2 separate regions of the Homo sapiens genome follow, and region 2 is linked to region 1. A link means that fine-mapping ties the variant in region 1 to the expression of a gene that starts in the linked region. Tissue or cell type: whole blood. Region 1 holds a variant in brackets; the other region holds the start of a gene. All regions are shown on one strand. Distances are between the middles of the regions.

Evidence for each region. PIP is the estimated chance that this variant, and not a neighbour inherited with it, causes the effect.
Region 2: it holds the start of ZMYND11, and the variant in region 1 is fine-mapped to the expression of ZMYND11 in whole blood (TOPMed, PIP 0.98).

The regions. Positions count from the first base shown.
Region 1 is chr10:596,809-599,564 of GRCh38, reverse strand. All of the region lies in intron 1 of DIP2C (disco interacting protein 2 homolog C), which reads left to right. Among named protein-coding and RNA genes, the nearest start is that of DIP2C-AS2, 30 kb to the left of the region's middle. The variant C/T (reference allele first, on the strand shown) is at 1,126.
Region 2 is chr10:134,433-136,932 of GRCh38, reverse strand. ZMYND11 (zinc finger MYND-type containing 11) reads right to left here and starts at 1,478. Exons shown (of 15, transcript NM_001370100.5): 1 at 1,374-1,478. RefSeq lists silencers at 2,051-2,229, 677-2,236.

The DNA.
Region 1 (2,756 bases):
TGCCTTTCGTTCACTGACCCACGAGTGAACAGCTGGTCAGATGACCACTGCTGCTTCCTTCGACTGGGAAGTGGTGACATGATTATACTTCCATGGAACTTGGTTTGTTCTTGGTCTAGTAAGGGTTCAGTTGTATCTTGATGTTTAATCTGCAACTCTGAATTGGTCTTTTGATTGCAAAGAGATTGCTTGCTGGATTTGTTTCTAAATATTTCATGGATAATAGGAGAAACTCACTTACCTGTGTGTTCCTGTAACGTGTTTTTGCCGGGTATTTAAATGGGTGTCTTAGTAAGCCCTTAGCCCACTTTCTGTGTGTGGTGGATTCATTCTAACCATTCTGTTGAGACCAGAGGATGTGGGGTGCTGTCTCCCTAAACTAGGGGGAAATGGCATTATTCTGCCCTCCTCCCTGGGAACGCTGGGGTTTCTGGGTCTCTAACTTGGCTCCCACGCTGGGAGAGTGGCTGTGGCTTCTGGAGCCTGTTTTGTGAGGGACTGACTCCTTCACTTACTTTATTCCACACGGTCTTCGCCGCTTTATGATGCAAGGATGAGGGAGGTGGGCCCGGGGGCCGTGCCTGTGCCTCAAAGGCTCGATGCAGAAAGTCGTTGTTGGAAGGATGTTCCTTGAGGCAGTCTTTTCTACTTTTAACAGAAAAGTAACTATTCACATGGCTCTATTCTGCTAGTGATGTTTCAAAATAATTGATGCAGAGTTACAAAGATGTCGGAGACACCCATGACCCACTCCGGGCTGGGGCCAGGCCTTCTGCTCAGATGCCTTCAGACCACATTCAGATGCCAAAGATTCTTGCTTGGTTATTCTCAAACTTAAGAGAATCTAAAACACAAGCCACGGTGTGGATTTTCTCTTGAGCTCTCATGCCTTTAATTGCTTTGTATTTGGGGAATGAATGACTTCATCAAGGGGAAAGAATTTGAGGAAGCAGCCTCTGAAGCTAGGAGGGGGTGGGGAGGGGTGGCGTGAGGAGCAGAGGGAAGAGGAGCTGTGGGGGGAGGAGCCAGGCTGGGGCCTCTCCCCATGATGCTCCCCTACCCCTGTCGCGAGGCCTCGGACTGAGACTGACTTTCCCACAGGAAATGCATGTGATGATTGCATGT[C/T]GGTTTTGTGGGCTGGCCATATGGATTGAGGGAATGTCCATGTTGTGATTCTTCATTGATTTGAAGGTTGGAAAGGTTTGTGCTCAATGCAGGGGTCTCTTGGTGCGATGGGAAATGTGATCGCAGCTGCCCTCGGGGTGGGAAGAGAGGCCCTTGGTGGCCGGTGCCGGCTTTCACCTTCCTGGGTGAGCTGCCCTTGGGGTGGGGAGGGAGGCCCTCGTGGCCCTTGGTGGTGGCCGGTGCCGGCCTTGGCCTCCCCCAGTGAGTGCTGCTCCATCCCTGGTGTCTCCGACTCTTTGCCTGGCACTTTCCTCGTGGGAGGCCGTGATCCATCAGCCTTGTCCACGCGTGTCCTGCAGACTTGTGCTGACTCTGCAGGTCCAGCGGTGGTTAGAGGAGGCCCTCCTAAACGTTTAATGATGGCGCTGCTGAGTGCATGAAGCCACGTCAGCCCCAGAGTCCAGGTAGGGAACCGTGGGGTAGAGGGAAGAGTGGACAGATGGGTGCTTTCCTTGGCCCCTGGGGGCATGGCCAGGTCCACGTTCAGACCTCCTGGTTTCTCCCGTATTTCCATAAATAGCCAGGAAAGGACTCAGGACCCCTAGGACCTCATGGGTGTAAGCTGTGTCCTCGTGTGGCCCCAGCTGTGGCCAGTGACGTTATTCTCTTTAACCTCAAGCTTATTTTGTATAAAAACATGAAGGGACAGAAGTAGTTCAGGAGCCTCTGAAGACTTACGTAATTGTTAGTAGGCCTACTTTTATGATTTCTTACGTATTAAGAGCAAATCATGAAACAAACTCATTTCTGTTTGAAGGAATCTTTACTGTTCTCATTTTTGTGGCAAGTGACATTGATTCTTTGCATAGTGACAGCGTTAGTGCACTCCTGCCCAGCCCTGCTGCCCAGCGTGTCCTCGGCACACACCTCTGTCCATTGGTCTCCATTCACCAGGTCTCCATTCACCTTTCCACCTAGAATTGTAGGGGGGCACTGGGATATTGGGGCTAGAAGGAAACTCTGAAGACCACTTCTAGGGGCAGCTTAGTCAGGGCTCTCCAGAGAGACAGAGCCAGCCCGGTGTGTGTGTGTCCAGGGGGAGGCTTGCTGCAGGGGCTACGGAGGCCAAGAAGCCCCAGGACCCACTGCCTGCAACCTGGAGGCCTGGGAGGGTGTGGCTCAAAGGCTTGAGAAGCGGAGGGTGCAGATCCCACCCAGGTCTGAGGAGCTGAGACCCAGGAGCACCGGGGGCAGAAGACGGATGCCACTGGCCTGCAGCCAGACAGGTGGAGCGAGCCCAGCCTTCCCCGCCTTGCTGTTTTACTCGAGCCCTGGAGCCCTGGGTGGACAGGGTGGTGCCCCCTACACTGGCGAGGATGGGTCTCCACTTAGTCTCCACTCAGTCCAGAGGCAAACACACATCTCACACAGAAATAATGCAGAACCAGCCACCTGGGCACCCCGGGGCCCACTCAGGTCGATACACAAAACCAATGCCACGTGTGGCCCTCATGTCTGCATGTTCGCGTCACTATGCGCATTGCTCAGTCATCGCCTTGGTGAGCTTGAAAGCTCATTGTGTGGTTCTGGGTGTCTTTGTCCTGGGCAGTGGTGGTGATGACAGGCTCCCC
Region 2 (2,500 bases), 460 kb after region 1:
ATACCTAACGTATATGACATTGAATACTGCATACACACCGCATATGGCAGCACGGTACCGTGCACATACTGCACAAAATACCGGGAACCGCGTAAGGGCTGTATATGACACTGGGTGCTGCATACACAGTGTGAAAGGATACTATGTACACACCATATATGACCCCAAGTACTGTGTGCACACAGTATATGACACCTGGTACTATACACACCGCATATATGACACCAGGTACTACATACACACTGTATGTGACAACAGGTAAGGTAAATATATTCAATACTATCCAGATACTACATACACTCGTATATAACATGGAGTACCACACGCACAGCTCATATGGCAGCAGGGTACCAGGCACCTACTGCACACAATACCGGGGGCTGAGTGCACAGCCTAAGCGAGGAAGATACATGTACACACCGTGTATGATAGCCGGTACGACACCGGGTACTTCGAGCACACTGCATATGACACAGAGTACACACCATATATAATCCCCGGTACTGCGTACCCACCGCATAGGACACCGCACTGCACAACGAGCACTGGTACACACGAATAAAACAGGTACGGCGGTCACTCTGCAAAAGACACCGGGCACGGCGCACACATCGCCAGCTCCTCCTCCTCCCGGCTCGGGAGAAAAGCGCGAGGAGAGACTGCAAGTGAAAGTCCGGGTCCCGGCGCCCCCCCTCGTCCCAGCCGCGTCCTCAGCAGCTTCTCCCCGGAGCTCTGGGTGGGAGGAGGGCGGCGGACCCCACAGGACTGTCCCGGAGGTCCGCGAGGACCTGTTGAGGCGGCGGCCTCGCTGCCGGGGTCGCTCACAGCCCCGGGGGACCGACGAATCTCCGCCCCGGGCCTCGGGGCCAGCCCTGCCCGCCGCTCCCGGGCTAGCACACGACGTGCCGCGCCGACAAACGCTTCCTCTCCGCCCGCCACACGCCCGGAGCCGCGTTCCCCGCCGGCCCGGACTGCGCACGGGCCCAGGAGGCCTGACCGAAAGCGGGGCACAGGGCCCGGCGGGCGGTGCTCACGCGACTCCGCGGCTTCCCGGCCCGAGCAGGCCCCGCGCGGTCCTCCGGGGCCTCATCCCGGGGCCTCTTCCGCGGCCGCCCAAGGCGAGTGGGCGCGGGCCGGCAGCCTCCGCAGGCCCCGCCGCCGCCCTCGCAGGCCCCGCCGGCCCGGCCCGCCCCGCCATCCACAAAGCTCCCCGGCAGCTCGGAGCTCTTCGCGAGCGGGCGAGCGACCGTCAGCACCCACTGGTGCCGCCGCCGCCCCAGAGGCCGCGGCCAGGCAGGCTCCACCGCGCGGGCCGCGCCATCTCCACGGACGCCCCCGCCCGCCCCGCCGCCCCGCCGCCGAGCTTTCCCCACCATTATGCTCCGGCTCCTCCACCGCCGCCGCCGCCGCGCCCGGCCCTCCCCTCCGGTGCCGCCTCCTTCCCGCCGCCCGGCGCCTCTCGGGCCTGAGCCGGCGACGGGCGCGGGGGGCGGGGGGGACGCTCAGGCCGCCTCCTCCTCCTCCCTGCCGGCCTCCTCCCTCCTCCCCGGCTCCCCCCCGCCCGGACCCCGCCGCCGGCTCCGCGCGAAGGGCTCCGGGCTCGAGGGGCGCCATGTTTGTAATACTCCACCTCAGAGAACGCCGCGGTCGCGCCTGAGCGAGGGAGGCTAGGCGGCCGGGTCGCCGCGTGCGGGGTGAGGGCCGGGAGGGCACCGCCGCCCGCACTTACTCGCGTCTTCCCCTGGCGCCGCGGGCCTGCGGGGCCGGAGCGGGCGGCGGGAAGTTGGGCGCCGCCGCCCGGGAAAGTTGGGTCCCCGCGAAGCCGCGGCAGCCGCTCACATGGCGATGCGCGCGGGGCGGCCGCTCGGCCCCACCGGCCCCTCGGCCCGCCCGCCCTCGGAGTTTATTGTGTCGGGTCGAGGCGCCCCGCGGCCGGGCCGCGCACTGGGGGCTCTAGCGGCTGGCGCCGGACTTGCGCGCGGCCGGCCCGGCTCGCGGCCGCCTCCCGCCCGGGGCCGGAGCCGTGCACGCGGCTCCTACCTTCCCCACGTCCTGTCTTCGGCGCCTCTATCCGAAATTTGTTGGAGCATATTCCTCTGTCTCCACACATGCACTCCGTATCCACACACACGTGAAGGCTACGTACGTGCAGGCGCGCTGGAGCCGGGAGCGGGCGCCGAGGCCGGGGCGCGAGGGGGCATTGTCAGGCGCCGCCGCAGCTCAGCCCCGGGTGGACCCGGTGCCTGCCCCTGGCTCGCGGGGTCCGGAACAGCGAAGTCTGAGAAGTACGAGTGCTTCTCTTAACAACATTGTTTAGGTAGTCTGAACAGCCCTTTACTCCTGTCATCAAAAAGAGCGGTAGGGATACGCTAAGTTCCCCGTTTCATCTCTGCGCAAACAGGACCGCGAAAAGAACAGGACCACCCATCAGCAGCCCTGCAAGAACACTGCAGATTTGCGCGAGAAGTAGGTTATCTTCTATGGAGAGGAATTCTAGACC